4 linked regions of the Homo sapiens genome follow. The protein of the gene in region 2 interacts with the protein of the main gene of each other region in a pairwise test. Each region holds a gene or a part of one and is shown on either strand. Other genes may lie near its edges.

Region 1 (7,035 bases), on a different chromosome or scaffold from region 2:
GAAGAAACCACTTCACGCCCATCAGGATGGCCTAAAAAAAGGAAGGAAATTTTGATACGTTCTACAAACGGGTGAACCTTAAAGACGTTATGTGAAGTGAAATAAGCCAGGCACAAAAGGACAAATCCTGTGTGATTCCACTTACATGAGGCACCTAAAGCAATGAAATTCATAGAGACAGAAAGTAGAATGGTGGTTGCCAGAGGCTAGGGCGGGGGGTCAATGGGGAGTGTTATAGGCTGAACTATGTCCCCTCCAAAATGTATTCATCGAAGTCTTAGGCCCCAGTACCTCAGAATATGATTATATTTGGAGATAAGGCCTTTAAAAAGGTAATTAACATAAAATGAGATTATTAGGGTGGGCCCTAATCCAATATGACCAGTGTCCTTATAAAAAGAGGACACAGCAGAAGGGGAGAAGTCAGCTTTCTGCAAGCCAAGAAGACACCAACCCTGCTGACACCTTGATCCAGGAATTCCAGGCTCCAGAACTTTGAGAAACTAAATTTCTGTTGTTTGAGCTGCCCAGTCCGTGGGACTCTGTTACGGCAGCCTGAGCTGACTAACCTGGGCAGCTGCTGTTTAACGGGCAGAGGGTTCCAGCCTGGGAAGAAGACGAAGCTCTGGGAGAGGGATGGTGGTGCAGGTGCACGACTCACTGAATGTGCTTAATGCCGCTGAGCTGTCCACTTCAATAGGGTGAAAATGGCCAATGTCATGTGTATTTTACCACAATCTAAACATTTTTTTTTTTTAGAAAAAGGTAAGTGGGAACTTACTTTGCTTCTAGAGCCAAGGCGATGATGCCCGCCACCATGGGGGCAGAGACTGAGGTCCCAGTGTGGCCATCGGTACAGCGCTGACGCAGATCCGTGGTGACCTGGGGGAGAGAGAAGCACAGTGAGGCAGTGATGGCAGACAGGCTAACTCACTCTGTGGAGAAGGCTGGGCTACTTCAGGTGCCACTAACTGGCAAGCGTGACCCTGGGTCTCGGGAACAAATAAGGTGTTAGGCAAATGCATCTCGGCAACCACAGGTTTCCACAACATCTGGTGCTCCCTGCTAAATCACTTTGTAGGAAGACAGGCAGGGGCAAGAAGGCCAGCTGGGAGCACAGACCGTACGCTTTGATAATAATAGATCAGCTGGTTCCCTCTCTACTGCAGAAGCGCATGTGGAAAAAATGGTAAAACAACATGAAACCAAGACGCACCCCACAAGCCCTCATCCCTGGGTCTGCCGGACTTTGTGGCCTGTCACCAACAGCCGAGAGTACCCACGGCAAAACCATCAGAGTCCACACTAGCTACCCCTAAGTCACCCCCTGACTTCAGAGCAGCTAGAGATACCCAGGTGGCTCAGAGAGAGTTTCTGCCTTTAGCCAGTAGGTCATAAGCTGGGTTCTCCACCAGGACGTCCTCCTGAAGAAGCAGATCAACCTGGCATGTTCTTGACCGCCCAAGGCCTACTGCACAGGGCAACAAGGCAGGTACCGCTAGCTGGGGGCTCTGCCTGCCCTCCTCGGAGGCACTGGCCCAGGCTGGGTGTGGGATGGATTCTGGACCTCACTACCACTCAGGCTGACGTGTATCTCCCGTTGGACTCAAACGGGAAGTGGGTGCTGGGGGTTCAGCCTGTGTGGGTTCAGGTGTGCTAGGTGGGATTGTCGCCCCATCATCTTTGTCCCCTGGTGTTATTCCAATGAGCTTTGCAGATAGAGTTAAGGTTGGTAGCCAGCCGACCTTAAACCAGGAAGATTATCCTGGATTATCTGAGTAGACCTGCTGCCACCACAGGGCCCTCCACCTTGGAAGAGGAAGGCAGCAAGGCTGTTTGAGAGAGGAAGCATTAGAAGGACTGGACCCACCGCTGCTGGCATTGAAGAGGGAGCTGAGGAGTAAGCCAATGAATGTGGGTGGCCTCCAAAGGCTGAGAACGGGCCCCAGCTGACAGCCCACAAGGAAATGGGAAACTCAGTCCCAGAACCACAGGGACCTGAGTTTTGCCAACAGCCCGAGTGGGCAAGGAAACAGATTCTCCCGGGAGCCTCCGGAAGGAACCACGGCCCTGCCAGCACCTTGGTCTTGGCCTCGTGAGACTCAAAGCAGAGACTCGGCTGAGGCTCCTGGACTTCTGGCCTACAGGACCATGAGATATCAATTTGTGCTGTTTTAAGCTGCTAAGTTTGTGATAATTTGTTATGGCAGGAATAGGAAAGTCACACCCACCCACCCACCACAGGACTCCAGTAGCCGATTTGCCTAACCTTTGAGAATCAATTTCACAGTGAGAGCAATCCAGATCCTCTTCCGAACTCAGCACCTTCCTTGCACACGTTTGAGCTGGGCCAACTGTCTAGGGAAGGTGGGGGTCTGGTCTGTGTCACACACAGGAAGATGTGACGGGAAGGCCAACAGAGACCAGTTTCCTCCTTGTTCGTTTCAGTGGGGCTGGGGTACCTCAACATGGGGAGGGCAGCTGAGGGCATGGGAAAAGGGACAAAAATGCTCCCTCTCTGACTCCAGCATCTTCATATGCAAATGGACACCATGATATAGATTTCAGGGGTTCTCGGCAGATCACAGCCAGGCACCTGAATGTACTTGGGCTTGGTAAATGGTGGCCAGGAGGAGAAACTAGGGGTGGCTGGGCAGGAGGCCACGCTCCCAAGAGCATGTGAGGCTCACAGCTGGTTCTCCAGCTTCAGAGAAGGGGGTCCTGGGGAGCGAGCAGAGGGGCCTACCCTGGGAGGGATGGCTGAATCAAGGTGGACAGCCCCTCCTGAGTCCTAGTGCCACGCCTGGGACACAGCTCGTGTTCAGTGAACGAACATACCCTCTTGTTCTGGTGAGAGATGCTTTCTTTAGGTTTTACTCCTCTATAAAGAGTCATGTGTCACCACAGGACATCCCTCGCTCCAGGTGGACACACCTGCTCACATTCCTCAGACTCAGAGGGACAGAGAATGCAGGCGGACAGGGTTGTGATCGCCATCACAGGCCTGCCTGAATGCTGGGACTGTGATATGTCGACTATCCTGAGCAGCACTCGTCTCCCTGGAGGACGTCTAAGAGGACTCAGAACAAAAGCTGGACTCTAGTAGAGCTGAAAATAACACCCCTCCTGTCAGAGCAGACTTCCCGGGCAGTGACCAAGACAAAGTATATTTTCTCTTTTACCGTTCTCCAAACTATACCCTTCTTACCCACATATTATTGCTCAGGGAAGAGAATTTTAAAATAAGAAAGAAAAAGCATTTTATAGCCAAGGCACGCACACATGCATGGCATACAGATCACACGCTGACGTGATTCGTAATGCAAATAAAGCTGCAAGTCCTACTTCCAGGGTTGAGAGACACCATCCTGCCTGCACGCAGTCCATGTTATAAACTGTCCCATAACTTAGCAAATTCGAACCTGCATCCATTCGGCCAGCAAGACTATGTTGGGTTTTGGCCAACTGTCTGTCTAATAAGACCCTAGCAGGTCCGTGCTCAAATGAGCTGGATTTCTACATAAACAGGACACCATTCAGCATCTCAGCTGCCCGTCCCAGGGGTGCGTACTCCAGCAGAAAAGGAAAATAACAAATTAATACCTTAGTTAACCAGGCCGAGCTGCTACCAGGCTGGCGACAGAACGATGGCAGCTGACCTTTCACTGGTGCGGAGCAAAGCCGAGAACAGGAAGCCTGTATGCTCCCACAGAAAAGTGTAAAAATAAATTTGCAAATAACTTCGAAAGATGTGGCTGAGCAGCCGCAGAAATGAAAAGATGCTAGTGAGCTTTAAAATTTAACCATGTCTGGCCAGCTCCACAGTCTCATTTTTAAAATGTCTACAAGTCAACGTAATGACTTTGCACTTCAATTCTGCATTAATTTGAACTGGAAACCCTCCCTTCCTCTTTTTTTTTTTTTTTTTAAGTAGGAAAGTATGTAGGGAAGGAAAAAGCACAAATTCTACCTGAGTACTAAAACAGTTACCTTTTAAAAGACAAATCATGCTTATGTTCACTTAAGTAAGCGGAACAGACAGAAACCACTGCTCGACTTAAAGTGTCCAGAAAAAGTGCTTCTGTAGCAACAGAATGCCTAGAAGAACTCCTGGATTTCTAGAATGTCTCAGTATAAAACCAAGTCTTTCTCTTACTCTGTTGTACACGCTGGAACTGGATGGGTTCATTGGATTCCAAGACATGTGACCACAGAATTTCAGAGTTAAAACAAGACATCATGAGAAGGAACCTCGTTCTTAAATAATATTTTTAGATCTCTAAAGCCAGAGAGGGGTTTAACTGCTATTTCTGTGCAAAGATTAGAAAGCCAGTGTCCGAGGAAGGCTGCCAAGGGACTGGGGTTTACCTCCAGGCTCAAATTGTTCGCCGATGGGTGAGGCTGGGACCCTGGGATCCGGAACAATCTGGCCTCAATCTAAGCCATCTTTCTGAGAAAGGGAGAAGAAACTCATTCCCAGAGGGCTGAGGCACTCACTGTAAGCACTCCAACTTGCCAAGAGAACTTACGATTTTTCGCTCATAAAAGGCCCCACTGCTGTAGGTGGTGGCCAGGGTGGAGGCACACTCTTCCAGGTACCAGGGCTTGTAGCCATTCTCGGTGGCGCTGCTGACGGAGATGGTGTAGATGCTGTTGGTGTAGCCATCGCACGAGCAGTAGTCCCCCTCTCTCCCGCCATTCCCAGATGCCCAGACGAAAATGGAGCCCAGGCCCTGCCGGCCCTGGAGGGACAAGAGGAACAAGGCTTAGCCCCGCAGCAGAACCTCGTAGGGTGGGTCTCCCCCCGAACCTAGAGTCCCATCTCCCAAATGTTCCTTCAAAGGGATAAGAAGGTTGCATTCAGACCATCTGGATGCTGCTGAGAGCATGGTTTTGGGGGCTCTGTTTGGATTTTAATGGTGTGCCTTTGCCTGTAGCAGCAGCCTTAAAATTGCAGAATCACAGGATCATACGAGGGGAAGGGGCCAGAAAGACTCCTCTGTTCTTCACAGGAAAATCAAGGGTCCCAACACAAGCTGCTCTATTCCAGAGCCATGCCTGTCATTTCCATCGCAATGGCCTAGGATCAAAGAGAGCTAGCAGTGCTGCAAATGACACTGAGATTACAGATGATGGAAGAATTTACAACTTTAATTTTTCTGGGTTGAAAGAGCTGGTCTGGTGGGGAAAAGAATGATTTTTCTGGAAAACATACTTGAAGAGGTACCCTTCTTGCAGAGAGAGCTAAATTTGCAAAGAGGGATAGGACCATGAACTCTGCGTGAAGACAGAATAGGTGGAAAGGGTTACGTCCAGGAAGCTGGTAGCAGCTTGTGGGTGTCCTGTCAGAGCTCCCTGTGGTCTCTGCAGTGGGTAAGTATCAGGGTGGTCTGATTTATATCACTAGCCAAGGCCAGGGCCTCATTTGTGTGTAGGTTTTCTTTCCGTTTTTTTGTTTTTTGTTTTTTTTTTTTTGAGACAGGGGTCTTGCTACGTTACCCAGGCTGGTCTGGAACTCCCGGGCTCAGGTGATCCTCCTGCCTTAGCCTTCAGAGTAGCTGTGCCTATAGAAGTGTGCCGCCATGCCCAGCTGTGCACCGGTGTTCATTGTTAAGAACGTACACATGAAAGCAAGTCTTTGAAAGACAGCAGCCAGTCAGGGCAGATTCCTGCAGCTCCGCTCTATCCCATACCCACAGGATGGATGATTTCTGACCACACTGAGAATCATTCCAGCCACAAGTACCAGCTAAAGATTAGCGAGTGGAAGACTGAACTGACGGATATAGTCCAGATGGCTGGATGGGCTGGTGGTGCACAGCTGGCCCGAGAGAAGGGCCAGCATCCACCTCCACGGGAAACTGGAGCCACTGGCTGGCCATCACATCCTTACTAAGGACCGTCCTTCCCAAACAAACAGAGGAAATTTATACTTATGCTCAACAATCGGCCAATTTAAAGATAACTTACACACCAATTCTGCAATCCCCGTAGAGCCAAATTGAAGCCTGCTGCTGACCAAACATGTCACACTCACTTTTGGAGCACAATGAGTGGACCCGCCTGCTCTGTACGCTCACACCACGGGGGTTTGTAAACCAAGGAGACTCCAGCTCCAACTTGAGGCTCCCAAGAAAGCCCACAGGAAAGTTCTTGGAGCTCACGCAGCCCCGCTGCTTAAGGCTGCCGCGTCCACTCTGCTTTCTGCATCTGCAAGGTGAACCTGTCGGGGTGGCCAAGAGCTCAACAGAAAGGTCCCTCCCAGAAAAGCTAACCTTCTGAGAGAAAGGCACAAAGAGCTCAGGAAGGTGGTGTGTGTGTGCACGTGATTACCTGCAGGAAGAGATTCAGCTGAAGCCGGTTTAAAGCAACTACAATGCAAATCAAAAGGTATTTAACCCATCAGAGCCTGTCCTTATTCCAGGTGAGAATTAGTCCTAGACACTGCCACTCCTAACTCCCCACCCCACTTGAAATGACTTATAAAATGTTGTCCTTTTGCAAGGTGGAGCATGCAACCTTACTGCTCCAGGAGCAGAGAATGGCCAAAAACAGTGCTCCCCAAACTTGAATGTGCACACCCTGGAGTCACCTGGGAACCTGTTACAATGCAGACTTGTGCCCCAAAGTCCAGGGTGGGCCTGAGAGTGTGCATCCCTAATGAGCTCCCAGGGGACGCCAGTGCTGCTGGCTCTGGACCCCACTTTGAATACCAAGAGCCTGAAATGCTCAAGGTTTGCATTTACAGCATGTAGCATGCATTTACTATGAGACCAACCCATCCTCATAGGCATCAAGGTACCAACAACCTTTCCCCTCCTTAAAACGGTTTCTGGGAAGGAGACATGGAAATGAGGCGAGGAAACAGCCAGGTCTGAGGAGTGTAGAGATGTTTTAACTGTCTCTGACGACTTTATTTTCACTTCCCAGATCTTCCAGTGGCTTCATGGAAGCCATGGGACAGAAGCTGTAGGGGACATTTCAACCCTAGCCATGAACTTGCACTTCTTTTCAGTAAACTCACAACTTCAACCC
Region 2 (7,078 bases):
AACAGGAAGAATGCCATCTGCAAATCAAGAAAGAGGCCCAGGCTGGGCACGGTGGCTCACACCTGTAATCCCAGCACTTTGGGAGGCCGAGGTGGGCAGATCATGAGGTCAGGAGATCGAGACCATCTTGGCTAACATGGTGAAACACCGTCTCTACTAAAAATACAAAAAATTAGCTGGGGTGGTGGCATGTGCCTGTAGTCCCAGCTACTTGGGAAGCTGAGGCAGGAGAATCACTTGAACCCAGGAGGCGGAGGTTGCAGTGAGCTGAGATCATGCCACTGTTCTCCAGCCTGGGCAACAGAGCAAGACTCCATCTCAAAAATAAAAAATAAAAAAAAAAAGAGTCCTTTAGTAGACAACTGACCTGCTGCTTGAAACTGAATTCTCAGCCTTTATAGCTTTGAGAAATGAATATCTGTTGTGTAAGGCATGCAGTCTATGGTAAATTTGTTATAGCAACCCAAAGGACTAAGTTAGGAAGGGTCTTTCTCTACCACACATCAAGGCTTTGAAGACTATAGTAATCAGGAGAGTATGATATTAGCAGACTGATGGATACATAAACCAATGAAAAATGGCAAATTCTGGAACAAGAGCATCTACTTAAGGTACAAGAACCTATGACACAGCAGGTATTGCCAGGCAGTGATACAAATGAGGGACACTTCAACAGAAATGATGGAGACAAATGGTTACCTACAGGAGAATAATCCATCTTCTGCCCAGCATCTCCATATACAATGATCAACTAACTATAGACTTTCCAGTTTTCATTAATTTTTACTCAGTTTGTTACCTCAGCTTCCATTTTGAGTGTGGTTTCGTTTTTCCATACCAAAAAAGGGGTTTTATGACCCTTGACACAGTTTCTAGTTCTCTATCTTCTCCCAGTTCTTCAATTTGGTTGATCCATATGCATCCCTTATACCATCATCTCCTTTCACCACCTCCCTATGGGTGCAGAGTGTGTCAAGTCAGGTCCTCCTATCACCTGGAACATCCCCCATCACCATGCTGCTCACCGAAGTGCTCAATAACCATGATCCCAGGAGACACTACATTGTTAGCTTTTCAGGTTCTTGCACCACCTCAGTGGAGTTGGTTTTCCTGTCCTTAGGGATAGTTTTCTCCCTTCATTAGTCTGAGAACATCAGAAGGGAAGAATCATTTCAGTCCTGTCCCCTTAATACCACCATCCAATTGGCTGACCAGCCATATATCCCCAAGGAAGGGATGGGGGAAGAAAAGCTGAGTGTTCTAAGGAAGTAGCTTATTGAGGAAGGGTATACCAGGAGACTCCTCCCACTACAGGGCATCATGCTGCTTCCCTACAAGGTCCCACCATCTCCACCTCAGGGTGTCCTCTGGGAGGAGTGACAAAGGGACTGATATTCACTTGACACTACAAGAGACTTGGCAGCTGTGGGCATCTTGGGGTGGCCCCAGGCAGCTCTGAAACCCAGGACCAGGAAACCATAGAGGATGGGCTGGGGACTCATCACTCTGTAACGTTTCCAAAGAGGAAACTTAATCCAAAGACATTCTCAAAAGGTGTCTCTGTCTAGGGATGATGAAGGGAGGACAGTAACAAAGATTTTATTTATTAATATTCATTTTTTTTACAGCGAAATGTCTGGTGGTTTTTCTCTGCTTCCTCTCATGTGAAATGTTCACAAACACAAAACCTTTTACAAAGAGCCATATATTGCTATGTATAAACAAAATGACAATTAAAATACTAGCCTCTGTTTGAAAAATAAACTGGGGGACAAGGAGTTCATAAAGTTGCTGTGAATTGAGGAGAGAAAGCCTGAGGAAGGCTCTGGAAGCCAAGGGATTTTCTGTCGGCCCTAGGAGGAGTTAGGATGAGAGAACACAGTGGTGGACTTGAGACCCTGCTGCCCACATCTTTGGAAGACTCGAAGGCGAACGGGTCACCCTTGGGAAGAAAGAAGGGACAGGGGACCACACAGACCACAACTCCTCCCACACACAAACCCCACACACGAGTCTGCCTGGTGACCTGTCATCACCGTGCAGCCTCCTCACCGGGTTCACAGAACTGCGAGCCAGGCTGGAGGCGAGATTGCAGTTAGATATTAACCAGGTGCCCTCAGCCCCGCTGCCTCGCGGGGCCGCCTCCCCAAGAGTCAGGCCACAGCAGATGCTGACCGCCGGCTTCGCCATTGTGCTTGGGGATGAGATCTCTGAGAGTTGCTCAAGAGTCGCCTGAGTTCTTTCTCAGATCCTGAATTCCAGCGGAAAGGCTGGCGCCAACCAGGCTGAAGACCCCACAAGGGAACCCACTCAGCAGAAGAATGCGGTTTCTTCACCTCCAGTCCCAAGAGTCACCCCTCACTTCCCCACCATCCAGCGACCCCACGCCCCAGCCGCCCCTGTCCACACCCCTAAACACCCCATCCCCAAACCTCTCAGGAAGGCGGATCTGGGGTGTCCTCCCCTCTCCCCCTATTAAACTGTTTCTGCTGCAGCCCTCGGCGTCTCGGTGCAGTGACTCGGGCCGCGAACCTGTGCCGGTTACAGCCGCACAATCTGGGGAGACGCAGGACTGCGGGCGCGGAGCTGCCCAGACAGGCCTCCAGGGCCAGGGCCGCAGTGGCCGCGCAGGGACGGGACAGGACGCCCGGGGTCCCGGCTGCCGCCCCAGCCCCATCGTGCGGCCGAGGGAACCGAGGGCCGAGCTGCGCCAGGGTGTCGCCGGCGGGGAAGACCTGGTGCCACCACAGCCGGTTCCGGCCGGTTCCAACCAGTCTCTCCTCTCACGCGTCGGGACACCAGACCTCACACACTCACCATTTCCCGGCTTCCGGCGTCCAGGTTCCTCCCTCTGCCTCCCGCTGTCAGTGCGGGTCCCAGCGAGACAGAAGCTGCCACAGACGTTCCAGGGCGTCTCTCAGTGACAGAACCCGGAGCCCAGTGCAGGGGCGTGGAGAAGACTCGGCGGGCTCTTTGAACCTTGCACCCTCCTCCGGTCAGTGCGCCTGATTGACAGTTCTCACGACCCCGCCCCGCGGCCCTGATTGGATAGTGCGCCAGGTCCCTCCCCCGGGCACTGAGTAACGGAAGAAGCGATCTCGGGCAGCGGAGTGGAACCTGATAAACAGATTCCAGACAGGCCTTGAGAGGACTAGCTTCCTCCCTGCGCTGTGACCTGACCCCCTCCCAGGGGACATTTGCATTTAGGCAGTATGTCCTGACCTTCCTCCTTTTTCCTCTTGGACAGGGACCCACAAGTCTGTGCAGGAAATTCCAGACTCACTGTCCAGTGGAGCTATCCCCTGATTTGAGAGCAGGAAGGGAGCCCAGGCCACACTGCAGCAGAAGGGAGGGGCTGATGTCCTCCAGGAATCAGGAGTTTTGGATGAGGCTGTTGGCTGCACAGGCCAAGCCTTTCTCCCACCTTATGTCTCAATCTACTAATTTTCAGTGCAGAATATAAAAACACCCCAACAAAGCCGGGCGTGGTGGCTCACACCTGTAATCCCAGCACTTTGGGAGGCTGAGGCAGGTGGATCACCTGAGGTCAGAAATTCGAGACCAGTCTGGCCAACATGGTGAAATCCCGTCTCTAAAATACAAAGATTAGCCGGATGTGGTGGCGCACGCCTGTAGTCCCAGCTACTCAGGAGGCTGAGACAGAGGAATCACTTGAACCTGGAAGGCAGAGGCTGCAGTGAGAGAGTGGGCGAGACAGAGGGAGACTCCGTCTCAAAAAAAAAAAAAAAGAAAAAAGAAAAAAGAAATAAATAAAATTGTTAAATGTGTGGAAAAACTGGAATTATATGGCGGCAATATTTTATAAAGCAAAAACTTGAACTAGCTCAGATAAGCAGCCTGCTGCATCCACACACAGTTCACAAGTCAACCACTTTCAGGAGGCCAAACATATTCCAAAGCTTGGAGGCCAGACGATAATTCCTGAAATGGAGCCCTAGGGTGGATCAGAACCTGGGGATGAGTCAGGGGCACTAATGGATTTAACTCTGGGAGTTCAATTTGCCCTCCTGTCTCCTAAACACAGCGTGGAAATGCTCCTTCCATCAAGCCTATAAATGTTATTGAATTAAATGCTTCAATCAAAGGCTGAGACATTAGACTTTGAATTTGAAAACATTCATCTTCATATTTTTATGAAGAATACCAGATATAAAAGCATTATGAGGCCAGGCACCGTGGCTCATGCCTGCAATCCCACCACTTTGGGAGGCTGAGGTGGGTGGATTGCTTGAGCTCAGGAGCTCAAGACCGGCCTGGGCAATGTGGTGAAACCCCCATCTCTATTTAAAAACAAACAAAAAAAAAGCGTTATTAACTGGGAGCTGGCACCCATGGTGATACGAAGAAAAAGAGGTTTAATTGACTCACAGTTCAGCATGGCTGGGGAGGCCTCACAATCATGGTGGAAGGCAAAGGAGGAGCAAAAGCAAATGTTACATGGCGGCAGGCAAGAGAGCGTGTGCAGGGGAACTGCCCTTTATAAAGCCATCGGATCTCATGAGACTTACTCACCCAAATCTCATTTTGAATTGCAGCTCCCATAATCCCCACATGTCATGGGAGTGATCCAGTGGGAGGTAATTGAATCATGGAGGCGGTTTTCCCATGCTGTTCTCGTGATAGTGAATAAGTCTCATGAAATCTGATGGCTTTATAAAGGGCAGTTTCCCTGTACATGCTCTCTTGCCTGCCGCCATGTAACATTTGCCTTTGCTCCTCCTTAGCCTTCCACCAACACCTGACCAAATGGATATGACATCTACAGAACTTTCCACCCAAAACCAACAGATTATACATTCTTCTCCTCACCACATGGCACATACTCTAAAATCAGTAACATAATCAGACATAAAATAACCCTCAGCAAATTAAAAAAACAAGCAAACAAAATCATACCAACTGCACTCTCAGACCACAGTGCAATAAAAATAGAAATCAAGACTAAGAAAATCTCCCCAAACCATACAATTATATCAAAATTAAATGACCTGGTTCAGAATGACTTCTGAGTAAATAATGAAATTAACACCAAAATCAAGAAATTCTTGGAAACTGAGAAGAAAGATACAACATACCAGAATCTCTGGGGCACAGCTAAAGAAGTGTTAAGATGGAAATTTATAGCACTAACTGCCCAAATCAAAAAGAAAGATCTGAAATTAATAACCCAATATCACAACTAGAAGAACTAGAGAAGCAAGAGCAAACCAATCCCAAAGCTAGCAGAAGACAAGAAATGACCAAAATCAGAGCTAAAATGACCAAAATCAGAGCTAAACTGAAGGAAATTGAGATACAAAAAAAAAAAAAAACATACAAAAGATTAGCAAATGCAAGACTTAGTTCTTGGAAAAAAATAACTTAAAAAGTCCCAAATAGTCAAGGCAATCCTAAGCAAAAAGAACAAAGCTGGAGGCATCATGCTACCAGACTTCAAACTATATACTACAGGGCTACAGTAAGGTATTTTTACAAAAACTGACACATTACCAATGGAACAGAATAGAGAGCCTAGAAATAATGCTGCTCACCTTCAACCATCTGATCTTTCACAAAGCTGACAAAAACAAGCAGTGGGGAAGGACTCATCAATGGTGCTGGGATAACTGGCTAGCCATATGCAAAAGATTGAAACTGAACCCCTTTCTTAAACCATATACAAAAATCAACTCAAGATGGATTAAAGACACTTTTCAAAAGAAGACATGCATGTAATCAACAAGCAAATGAAAAAAAAAATGCCCAATATCACTAATCATTAGAGAAATGCACATCAAAACCACAATGAGATACCATTTCACACCAGTTAGAATGGCCATTAATAAAAAGTCAAAAAATAACAGATGCTGGGAAGGTTGTGGAGAAAAGGGAATGCTTATACTCTGCTGGTGGGAGTTTAAGTTAGTTCAACCATTATGGAAAGCAGCGTGGTGATTCCTCAAAGCACTAAAAACTGAATTACCGTTTGACCCAGCAATCCAATACCCATTTACTGGGGTATTGGATCCACATACCCAAAGGAATATGGATCATTCTACCATAAAGACACATGCACACCTATGTTCATTGCAGCACTACTCACAATAGCAAATATATGAAATCAACCTAAATGCCTGTTAACAGTAGACTGAATAAAGCACATTTGGCACATATACACCAAGAAATACTATGCAGCCATAAAAAAGAACAAGATCATGCCTTTGCAGAAACATGGATGGAGATGGAGGCTATTATCCTTAACAAACTAACACAGGAACAGAAAACCAAATATCACATATTCTCACTTAATAAGTGGGAGTTACATAATGGGAACATGTGAACACAAAGAAGGGAACAACAGACGCTGAGGCATACTTAAGGGTGGGAGGAAGAAAAGGATAAGAAAAAATAACTATCAAGTATCATGCTTAGTACCTGGGTGATGAAATAATCTATACACCAAACTCCCATGACACAAGTTTGTCTATATAAAAAAACTGCATATGTACCCTGGAACCTAAAATAAAGGTTAAAACTAGACATTTGAATATTATAATAAGAGTAACTCTGTAAATCAAATTCTCCCCCTTCTTTTTTATGCGATTTATGTTCGCTGAAGGCTGTAATTGCTTATTTGTTTGGTAATCTTGTTTATTTCAGAAGTGTATTTATAGAGACTGTATTCCCTGTCCAGTGTAGTCACTGAGGTCTCTGTCCCTTTAGCTTATATTCACCCAGTGTTCTGACAATGCCAGAAACTGAAAGAAAAAGAGAAAATGAAACAAGCAAAAAATTGACCTCTGTCAGTCTCTGTGGATGGATCTGAGCTGGAGAATTCCTCGAATCCTTAGCCCAGCTGCTTAAAGCTCTGCTTCACCCTTCTCTTTCTGTTTAACCAAGCCTCAAGATCTGCCACATCTGAAAACGATGGTCTTGGGTCTTTTGTGAAAATGTGTTTTTCTGTCGTTTGACTGCATGGGGCTTAATTCCTCAGTATACCCTGGTGCTTTTTTTTTTTTTCTTCTTCCAGGTCTCAGGAAACTACCTCCTATAACTGGGTGCTTTATTTTATTTTAAA
Region 3 (6,944 bases), on a different chromosome or scaffold from region 2:
AAAAATCAATTGGAATGGGAAATTCCATTAGTGTAGATATCTTGATCATTTTCCAAGAGTCCTAAAATGTTAACTAGAAATCGAGATAATCTTTTGACCTACTAGATAAAACAACTGGCCCCTGAAATAAAGACAGGACCCAAATCTCCTCTGTTCTTTAAGAATTTGGAGTCTGTGGAGAACACTTGCACTTACTGTATGCAGAAAGGCCATTAGAAGAACTAATGTTCCATGTCAGAAGGACAGCTGTCCATATCTGTCTACTGAGTCTTTCTGAGGAGAACTTTGCACTTAACATTTTCCTATTTTGCCTCTAAACTCCCAAAGGGCATTGTCTATAAATATAAATGAACAGCTATACTGCTTGCTTGTTGATATGGTTTGTTTCTTATGTGGAGATCAGACTCTTCTATTCCAACTATAATTAAGACTAATTGTTCTGCATGATGAATACTTAGACCATTCCAGTGCATGATTCTCCAGCACCCACGGTGGACTATGTCTTCTTACACAGAGTCTGAAGGGATGAAACCCTTCTTGGGGGTTTAACTACTAGTAGATGAAACAGACTTCTGAGGATTCTGAGTTGAACAATTTAAAGTGCCTTTTTTCCCCTCACCTTGACTGACACAGCAAATCATGTAGCCCACACCCTAGGGTACACCTGACCAATTTAAAATCCTTAGTTTGAGTAATTATGGATCACAGAAACCTTCGGGTTTTATTTTAGCTAATTAGGGGAGTCTGCACCATTGCTAACACTCCCGTTGTGCCTGGATTAATATCACAGGTGAGGTTAATCTATAGCTAAGCCCAAAGAAAAAGCAGCCTGGCTATCTAAGGTAGATGGTCATGCCAGGGAAATCATGGGGCATGACTCCAGAGAGGCTTTCAGATCTTTTTGAAAATACTTTTAATTGTCATTGTCCCTTTTTTTTTTTTTTTTTTTTTTTGAGATGGAGTTTTGCTCTTGTTGCCAGGGTTGGAGTGCAATGGTGCGATCTCGGGTCACTGCAACCTCCGCCTCCTGGGTTCAAGCGATTCTCCTGCCTCAGCCTCCCGAGTAGCTGGGATTACAGGCATGCACCACCACGCATGGCTAATTTTAGTTTTTAGTAGAGATGGGGTTTCCCCATGTTGGGTCAGGCTGGTCTCGAACTCCTGACCTCAGGTGATCTGCCAGCCTTGGCCTCCCAACGTGCTGGGATTACAGGCGTGAGCCACTGTGCCTGGCCTTAATTATCATTGTCTTGCATCATTCAGGTTCTGTTGTCCAGAGAGCTGAATGCTTTTATGTAGCCTCTGGTTTGACAAATGGTGAAACAAATGATTCAAAGAAAAAATGAGAAGAAATGAGGCAGACTGATACTCAAAATGAAAACCAGATCTCTGTACATGGAAAAATGGAACTGTGTTTTCAAGAAAAGCCAATGACAGTGGTGAAGATCTGGACAATCTTGGAGGGTCTTTCCTGCACCTTTAGTTGAGGGAGACCAGAAGGCAGATAATGAGAATTAAAAAGAGAAGCTCCCACATTCCTAGGTGACGATGGATTGCCCTGTAACCACGGTAACAACGAATCCCCAGAACCTGTGTGACACTCATTTAATCTATTAATGAAACTCCCTTGGTAACCATTCTAACAGACACATGCCAGTAGGTACATTTCATAGCTAAAGGTCTACCATTCCTAAACACTGCTGCCTCTGAAACACCACCAGTCCACGAACTCAACACCTCCCAAAGCCCCTTATGCATCAGCCATGAGCTTTGTTCAGAGACTTTGCCATACAAGCACAGTTCTCCCTTGTTTAACCAGAAATAAATTCAGTTTTTGTTTCATGTAGTGAATGCAGGCATCTTCCACCAAAGCAGCTTATGGATATACAAGAAAATGTAGTTATTCAAATTCTCTTTTTCTCTCTTTTTAATGCAAATGATAGCTTACTATACACCACGTTTTGCACCTTGATTTTTTTCAATTAAAAATAAACCGTGGAGATCGTCCGTATTATCAGCAGCGATCTGAAGCGCAGGTTTGTTGACACCCCGTGCTGATGCTCTCTCCACATCTTTACTAGAAAATTTTGCAAGAAAGAGGGTAGTAGAACCACTTTCTCCTCTAAGTGTTGACAGCAGAGAGCTTTGAGTTTTTGAACCCTCTTCAAGAAATGAAAAGGCTCTTAGGGAGAGCAGTGTATCAGTTACAAGCACATTCTCTGGGGGTATAATTCTTGGAGATCTACTGTTAGCTAGGAAATTTAGAATTTATGACCTCTTTGAATCTCTGTTTTCTGACCTGTAAAATGGGGATGAGAATAATAGTATCTACAATAGAAGGTAGTTCTGAGGATTAAATAATGATGGAAAGTGCTTAGCACAGCTTTCTGGTGTGTCGTAAAGGCTTAATAAATACAGATGAAGGTTCTGATGCTGATGAATATGTAGGGAGATGCCTAGGGGATGTGTGGCACTTCTTGCACTACCAGTGACCCCCTCTAGAGGGAAGCAGAAACCAAAGAAGAGGGCCCTTGGGTTGTCCCCAGTGGGTATGAACTTCAGGTCTCTAGTGACCCCATTGCACTTTGATCAGAAGAAAGATGAATGAGGTCAAACAGGAAGGCTTCTGGCGCTGCGGGCGGGGGTGGGGGAGGTCATTCAGCACAGGTGGAGACTGGGACCCAGAGAGAGAGAGAAACAGTGAGGTTAGAGCAAATGAAGGATGGGGATTGCTTCTTGGAGCAAAATGAATAGGTGTCCAGGAGTGGTGGGGACATTGTGCCTTTTAGTACAGAAAAATTATCACCTCCCGCCCTTTGGTTTAAACTGTGAGCCCCACTCACCTGCAGCTGGCAGAGTAGACAGAAGGCTGTCTGTGATGTCACAGAGCTGGGGAACCAGGGAATGTTGGGGCTGGGATGTTTGGACTGGACCACAACAGCGAGGAGGAGGGAGAAGTTCTGCTGAGCACGATGCCATGCTGGCCACCAGACTGTATACTGGGGCACAAGTCCTGGGGCCTCAGGAAGCACCTAGAGGATGGCCAGAAGGGGGCAGTACAACACTGGATGCTGTAGATCTGGGTGCCATTCTGTCTCTGTCCGCCCACTGGGTAGTAACCTTAGGCAAAGTGACTTCACGCTCAGGTTCTCCCTCTGCAATATGGGAATAATAATAATTTTTTTTTCTTTTTTGAGACAGAATCTCACTCTGTCACCCAGGCTGGAGCACAGTGGTGCAATCTTGGCTCACTGCAGCCTCCGCTTCCCAGGTTCAAGCGATTCTCATGCCTCAGCCTCCCAAATAGCTGGGGCTACAGGCATGCACCATCACGTCCGGCTAATTTTTGTATTTTTAGTAGAGACAGGGTTTCACCATGTTGGCCATGCTGGTCTCGAACTCCTGACTTCAAGTGACCCCCCCCCCCCCACCCCACCACCTTGACCTCCCAAAGTGCTGGGATTATAGGTGTGGCCTTCGCCTGGCCAGGAATAATAATAATTATATGTCCTGTTTGCATTTTTAAGTATTAAATGAAATCAGGTAAACATTTAACATGGTATCTAGATGTAGTAAGCACTTTAAGAAAGGGTAGTTATTAATAACATATGCAAAAATGAAGTGACATTTTCTTCCCTATTTATTTTTCAGAAAAGAAGGAATCACTTTGTATTGGAGTCCTGACAAAATCTCTCAGCTTATGGGGCACTCTTTCCATTCCTTTATTTAGGACAACCAAGTACTATTCATATATGGGGAAGCCACATTGGATTAACATGTTCTCAATCAGTGCTATCATTTGATGCACAGAGAGGTCACTGGATACAATAGAAACAGAAGAAAGCAAAGGAATTCAGCACAGCTGTGGGGTCATTCATGTGGTTGGGGCGGGTGATGTGACTCCACAGCTGTGCTGAATTCCTTTAATAAATATTTGATGGTGAGTTAAACAGCCTTTGAAAGCTCACAGGTAAAGCCACATTCTTTTTTTTTTTAAATTATACTTTAAGTTCTAGGGTACATGTGCACAATGTGCGGGTTTGTTACATACGTATATATGTGCCATGTAGGTGTGCTGCACCCATTAACTCATCATTTACATTTGTTATATCTCCTAATGCTATCCCTCCCCTCTTCCCCCCACCCCACGACAGGCCCCGGTGTGTGATGTTCCCCGCCCTGTGTCCGATGTTGCCCGCCCTGTGTCCAAGTGTTCTCATTGTTCAATTCTCACCTATGAGTGAGAACATGCGGTGTTTGGTTTTCTGTCCCTGCGATAGTTTGCTCAGAATGATTAAAGCCACACTCTTAAATGGTAATTGAAGGTTCTCCATTTTGGCTGCAAGTGAGATTCACTTGAAGTGTTTTTAAAACAAAGAATACCTGGGGCCTAACCCCAGATAAATTATAATTTTGGTAGGGTGTGGAAACTGGGTAGCAGTATGTTTACAAAAATTTCCAGGTGATTCTTGAGTATAATCAAGAACTGCTGAATTCCATTGTGCAGGTCATTATATACAGGTAAGCGGTGGTTCTCAGATCAGGCTGTATATTAGAATCATGGGAGGAGCTTTAGAAAATGCCACTCCTAGCACCTGCTCCCAGTCAGTAAAATCACTATTTTGGGGGCAAGGGCCCAGGTGTCGATAGATTTTACAGCTCCCCAGTTGATTTTAATTCGCAGCCAGCATTAAGAACTACTGATTTATAGAGGTTTTTTTTTAATCATAAATTTCATTGATGTGATACAAATGGATCCTTTTTAGCTTGGGATGAGCTTTTCAGGAACAGCATTATTTATATACAGATTCAAAAGCATTATTTAAAAAATAACTTAGAAATGAAGATAATATATTCTGAAAACCTGTGCTAGATGAGGTTAAAGATGTGTATGAAGCATTTGAATGAAATTGTTTCAGAAAATGAAAGATTGAGGATAGTGATATAGTTTGGCTGTGTCCCTACCCAAATCTCCTCTGGATTTGTAATCAAAATTGTAATCCTCACGTCGGGGGAGGGACCTTGTGGGAGGTCATTGACTCATGGGGGTGGTTTCCCCCATTCTGTTCTCCTGATAGTGAGTGAGTTCTCACGAGATCTGATGGTTTTATACGTGGCAGTTGCTCCCGCTCTCTTCTCTTTCACCTGCTGCCATGTAAGATGCGACTGCTTCCCCTTCTGCCATGATTGTAAGTTTCCTGAGGCCTCCCAAGTCATGCAGAACTGTGAGTCAATTAAACCTCTTTTCTTTATAAATTACCTGGTCGTGGGTATTTCTTTATAGCAGTGTAAAAACAGACTAATATGGATAGCAACACAGGTATTTCCAAATTAATGTATTTTATATAATATGCTCTGGCAAACACATATCAGGTACTGACTACTTATAAGTTGATGCTTGATTATTTCACCCATAGCACTAAATGTGTATATATTCAAATTGGAGAAAATACTTAAAATCTTTGCATAAAGAAACTGCCTTCTGTTTGGGGTGGTTTACCATTCAAGCATGTATGGTGTGATTACTTTCTTCTCTTTGGGTCTGGGAGGGGAGATGGGCCAACAGGCTTCTGTATTAATTTCTGGTTCAGGTAGGGAATAATGAAATCTTGACCTGATGCACTGGGCTAAGACAAATGGGTGGATTTTTACTCTGGTGATTTCACAGTGGGTAAGTTCTGGGGTCCGAGTACCTGGGTGGGACGCTTGCCTTCCTAACTTAATGCATGACCTGGGCCATAGCCATTAACCCCTCTAATTCTCAGTTTCCTTAACTTTAAAATAGAAATAATAATAGAGTTGGTGTGAGGAGTAAATTAGACCAGCCATGGAAAGCTGTAAATGTAGTGCCTGCTAGAGAGGCAGCACTCAATAAATTTTCCTTATTATTATCTGGTGTTGAGAGTGAAGGATTAGCTTTCACACCTGTGGATGTGAAATCAGGGAATTCAATTTAGGTTTTCAAAAGTTTTATTTTGTTTATTTTTATTTTTATTATTTATTTATTTATTTGAGACAGATTCCCGCTCAGTCGCCCAGGCTGGAGTGCAGTGACTCTATCTCCGCTCACTGCAAGCTCTGCCTCCTGGGTTAACGCTGTTCTCCTGCCTCAGCCTCCCGAGTGGCTGGGACTACAGGCGCCCGCCATCACGCCCAGCTAATTTCTTTCTTTCTTTTTTTTTTTTTGTATTTTTTTTAGTAAAGACGGGGTTTCACCGTGTTAGCCAGGATGGTCGCGAACTCCTGACCTCGCGATCCGCCCGCCTCGGCCTCCTAAAGTGCTGGGATTACAGGCGTGAGCCACCGCGCCCAGCCTTGTTTTTAAATAAAGTCTCGATCTGTTGCCCAGGCTAGAGTGCAGTGACATGAACTCGGCTCACTGCAGTCTTGACCTCTTGGGCTCAAGCCATCCTCCCACCTCAGCCTCCCGAGTAGCTGGAACCACAGGCACACACCACCACGCCAGGCTAATTTTTAAATTTTGTGGAGAGGGGGTCTTGCCATGTTGCCTAGGCTAGTCTCAAACTCCTGTGCTAAAGCAATCTTCCCACCTCTGCTTCCCAAAGTGGTGGGATTATAGGCTGAGCCACTGTGTCTGGCCCAAAACTTTATTTTGAAATAATTACAAATGCACAGAGAGTTACAGAGGTAACTTTGTAGCTTTCTCTCTTTAGAGAGAAACAAAGAGGTAACTTTGTAACTTTCTCTCTGCAGACAGTTCCCATGAACCCATCCCCCAGCCTCCTCCAATGTTAACATCTTGCCTTACTATATTACAAGATCAAAATCGGAAATTAACATTGGCCCAATCTACAGAGCTTATTCAAAGTTCAGTCGTTATTCAAGTACTCATTTGTGTGTGTATGTGTATAGCTGCATGAAATTTTATTACATGTGTAGCTTCGTGTAACTACCACCACAATCACGGTACTTAACTGTGCCAT
Region 4 (4,496 bases), on a different chromosome or scaffold from region 2:
CTCCTAGCATATCTACAGAACTAAGTTCATTAAGTCTAGCTGATAAATCTAACTTTTTATTAACTTAAAAGTTAGGATAAACATTTAAAAAAGCTTCTACTGTAGATATGCCCCATTTCAAGAAACTATAATATACACAAAACCTCATGCTTACAAAATAGTCAAAGTAGGGAGAGAGTATTACAAAAAATTTTTACTGTACAAAATAACTCACTTGAGCATTTGTTAAAAGATAATTTGGATTACAAAATTTTGATTAATGCACTTTCCAGGAAATACTAGGTTGGTGCAAAAGTAACTGTGTTTTTGCCATTAAAAATGACCCAAAACTGCAATTACTTTTGCACCAACCTAATTATCCAGTTCATAATTTGGGCTCACCTATGTCTAGATTCAACATCTATAGGGAAAGAAGTAAAATGGGTGTGTAAGAAGAAAAAGTCAAAGCAAATAAGCAAAAATCATCATAATAGTACAGGCTAATAAATGAAGAAATCGAGAGACAGTTTCATTAATTAATATATTTTCTGCATTATAGTTAACATATGTACTTTCTTCGTGTCACCTTATTTTCCGTTAAGTATTGATATTTTGTTATATTCAAACATGAGTACATTTCAACAGTCTTTTGCAATAAATACCATAAAATAATAGAGATTCGCATAATAAATATTCTTTACAATAAAAAAGTTTAACAGACTTTTGTCTTAAAAATAGTCAGAATTCAACTTTGTGATTTATACATAAAATATACAAAAAGCACCACAATTTGTGGTTAAGGCAAGGAAAACACAGAAGAGATTAGAATTACTCAGCTGTTAACTATCCAAGGGGCCAAAAGGACCATTAAGGAGCCAAGATCACTTTAGGCAGCATAGTTCTGTGACACATATAGATTGATCAGCTATAAATATCAACTTGAGTTATCCAAGTGCCCTCAATGACAACAAAAATTTGGTGAGAAGCATGGGGTGAAGAAGGAAGGTGGCTGAGTCCTTCACAAATACGAAGGCTAGAGTGAAGATGGGCAAGGTCCAACCAATATTATCTCCAATGTGAAGATTTACATTGTAAGGCGAATCTAAAATTACATAGAAAGAAAAAATACACTTGGCATCTCCAGAGTAAGACAACAACAAAACTGAGGGGGAAAGAACCTTGAAGGAGAAAGAAGGAGAGGGCAGTGGTTAAAGGAAAATTTTTACGTTATAGCAAAAAATATATCCCCCATGCTACTTAAGGGGCCTATGCTAGGAAGATAGCCCTAACTGGAGACAGATTTAATACATAGCTTATTTAAGCAATTAAACAGTTGCTTTTTAAAAAACCAATTTCCCTGCTCCCACGGTACCCAATCAAAACAACTCTAAATCACTGTAGTCTGGATGTGGGTGTATGTTCATGTACACAACTTTAGAAAGTTGCTTGCAGAACAAAAAGGCTACACAAAAGCCCACTGGCTCTCAATACCCTCAAGTGGATGGCAGAGGCTCTTGTTGAAAGTGGGAGCCAGGTGCAGCTTCCCAGTCCACTCTTGCTGAAGATCATCCATGAGGAAAGAGAAAAATCCATGAGTTAGACCTTGGCAACAGGGGAAGAGAAGGTGGGAAACAGGGAAAAATTCTAAAGAAAACAAAAACAAAAACAAAAACAAAAAACAGCCACAACTTGAAAGCTAAAAGTTCAGGAGGTACAACCCACCTCCAAAAATCATGATGGTTTACCCTGACCCCGGGAGGGGCAGCTCTCCAGCTTACAATAGACAGTGTTGGAGTTCTTACATCTGCACCCTGGGCGATGGATCCAGTCATAACACCTCCTGCACAGCTTCAGGCATCCTTTAGCAGGAGGATAACAGAGTAAGCAAGGTAAAAATAAAGACATGGCTCCCATACACAGGTATCTAGAGCAGCAGTGTGATTGTGAACAGGAGCAAGGATTATCTGAATAGGAATCCCCTTCGTCGTCATTGGAGCAGTGGTAGAAGATGCCCTTGACTAAGCACATGCAGGTTCCATATTCCACCATGCTCTCAGCAGAGCAAAGGCACTGCCGGTTACAGGCCAAACAGGATGGTAGGGTCCTGGGAGCAGTGCATTCTCCACACTTGCACTTCCCACACTGTTCACAAATGAACTTGTGCTGTGTCAGGTCCTCTTTCAAGGAACCCTTCAAGTCATCCACAATCAGTTGCTTGGGCTGGGTCCGGATTGCCCTTTCAGACCTATGACCAGGGACTGGTCTGGTTGGTGGTGACCTTCCTAACAGTCCCTGTTCAGAAGAGGCACTGCTGTTGCTCCCAGAGCTGGCTGCACTTCCAGTGCTGGTTGATCTGCTCAAAATGGGGCCCCTGGCATTACTTGGGAGTACTGCATGTCCCAGGTGGCTTGTGTGTCTGTGCTCGTAGTTATTATTCACATTAATTGGTATGATTTCATGAGTCCTTTCATGCTTTTCTTGTCTTGGTGCTGTCCGAGGAGCAGGTCTTTTCACCACCGAAGGCCCTTCTGTGTATTCATTGCTGCCTCTTATGGCCTTGATCTGGTCTAAGGACAAAATAGCAGTAGGCTGAATCTCTCTCTCATAGTCTAATCTCTGACGGCTATCCAAAGAAGGCTGCTGGATCACAACTAACGAACTGCCACTGCCATGTTGATTTTGGGGATCCATGTGTAGTGATCTCGAGTTCTGGCAATCAGTGGAAACCTGGCATGCATCTGAAATCCTAAAACGAAATCAAAGATGAAAAAAACAGAAAATAAATGACAGGAAGCATTTTTTTTGGGGGGGGGGAATCCTGTCAAATCACAAATTGCCTAAACCGCCTAGTAATGACCTCCTTCATCAGTGGATTACAATGATGCTGGGGTCCTGGCCAGAGTCCAATTCTAGGAGAGGCTGGGGACCACATCATAGAGGAAGACTATAAACAAGAGACCCCATGCCATGAACATTATAAGTTTTTCCAACTTTTAAGAAGCAGAATCAGGAGAAAGTAATGCCTTCCTGTTTGTGAATCTAATAATTAAAATGGAGCATGCCTTCGCAGGGAATACTGAGTATAAGCAGGAGAATAACTCTCATCTAAAGAAAGCTCAGTTATCAGTTCATAGGTGGCTTCCATAAAGGAAAATGTCTACCTTTTAAGAAATTGAGAATGGCTTTGGTGCTACAGCCTTTTTGTTGTGTGCTGTTATATGCATTAGATTAATGATGAAAAAAATTAAGGCATTAAAAAATTGAGACTCTTAAAATGAAATCGCAAAATAATAGGTAATTTTCTATATAAATCAGAATTTTAAAACTACCTTATTATTCATCTATGAGATGCAAAAATAAATGTATCAGGTACACAACGATTCTTGGTGTTTTGGAGCTACAAACACACACACACACAAGACTCAATGTATAGTCCAGTGAATGATATATAACAGTACTCATATTTGAAATCCTGAGAGGATTTTTTTTAAGCTGAAGGGCTCACTCACAAAACAAAGTAAGTTTTATGCACAAATAAGTGTGAGGCCTTTAACGCAGTGTAGGGAAATCCTGGCAGTTTTAATTATCTGTATTTCCTCTGATTTAAAAATCTGTATTTACATGACAGACCTTGATTTTCAAACGCACTGCCAATTCTGATTCAACGTTCTTCTTGTAACAAAATCAGCACACTAATATCCAGATAAAAATAAGCAGTTGTGTTTCCATACTAATAGTAAGTTATTTCTAATTTATGTGTTCTTCACAAACTGCCAAAGATGAAAGTTTCTGCTTTCAGTGGTGAACTAGAGTATTTTTCACACAAATTCCTTCTAAAGTCTACAGAGTCGACCCAATTCAAGAATGAAAAGAAAAAGAAATGTCCATTCTCCACTACCAACCTGAGGCAAAAAACATGGTTTAAGGAACAACGCAGAAAGAAGTCCATTTCCTATATTTCCTAAACTAATGTCTCTAAACTATGTCTTACATGTTAACTTCTTGGAGCTCCCCCTCGTTTTCACAACTCAGCTCTCTCGAGTTTCTACTTTATTCTACCTTCTTTGCGCATGAGGAGTAACACATTCATAACCTGCGGGGATTTAGTCTCGGAGTCCTCAACATCTAATCCTGACTCCTGCACAATTATTCCTCTTCTTCAAGAACTTCTTAACTCAGTGCTTTCAAAGCAAAAGGTAGCTAAAAGTACTAAGCCAGATTCACAAAACCGCAGAGGATTTGAATAGTGTAACCCATAACACCAGGCACAACTTCAATTTGCATTTCCAATGATAGTTGTAACAAACTTCATACTGGCTGGGAAATAAAGTTGCCAGACAAAAAAATTAAAAGCAAAGAAAATTCGCCACCTCCGATCCGAAGAAAAGCCCATTTTCAAGCAGTGACAGTCTTGGACAAGCCCCAAACACGCTCACACGCGCTCGGCACACTGCCTTCCCCAAGAAAACGCGAATGGAAGTAGAATACCTTTTCGGACAATCCCATCACCATATTAA

Evidence for each region.
Region 1: the proteins of ZNF441 (region 2) and PCSK6 interact in binary tests that used the Homo sapiens proteins (3 or more experiments, as listed by UniProt).
Region 3: the proteins of ZNF441 (region 2) and TEX48 interact in binary tests that used the Homo sapiens proteins (3 or more experiments, as listed by UniProt).
Region 4: the proteins of ZNF441 (region 2) and SPRY1 interact in binary tests that used the Homo sapiens proteins (3 or more experiments, as listed by UniProt).

The regions. Positions count from the first base shown.
Region 1 is NC_000015.10:101,388,683-101,395,717, forward strand, and holds part of PCSK6 (proprotein convertase subtilisin/kexin type 6 isoform PACE4-AI preproprotein), read right to left. Parts: intron 4,743-7,035; coding exon 4,530-4,742; intron 883-4,529; coding exon 782-882; intron 1-781. UniProt on the Homo sapiens protein: Serine endoprotease that processes various proproteins by cleavage at paired basic amino acids, recognizing the RXXX[KR]R consensus motif.
Region 2 is NC_000019.10:11,762,936-11,770,013, reverse strand, and holds the start of ZNF441 (zinc finger protein 441), read right to left. Parts: upstream 3,015-7,078; 5' UTR 2,821-3,014; coding exon 2,818-2,820; intron 1-2,817. UniProt on the Homo sapiens protein: May be involved in transcriptional regulation.
Region 3 is NC_000009.12:114,679,192-114,686,135, forward strand, and holds the start of TEX48 (testis-expressed protein 48), read right to left. Parts: upstream 3,002-6,944; 5' UTR 2,844-3,001; intron 2,675-2,843; exon of another isoform or gene 1,968-2,674; intron 1-1,967.
Region 4 is NC_000004.12:123,399,766-123,404,261, reverse strand, and holds the end of SPRY1 (protein sprouty homolog 1), read right to left. Parts: exon of another isoform or gene 4,468-4,496; intron 2,726-4,467; 5' UTR 2,671-2,725; coding exon 1,711-2,670; 3' UTR 507-1,710; downstream 1-506. UniProt on the Homo sapiens protein: Inhibits fibroblast growth factor (FGF)-induced retinal lens fiber differentiation, probably by inhibiting FGF-mediated phosphorylation of ERK1/2. Inhibits TGFB-induced epithelial-to-mesenchymal transition in lens epithelial cells.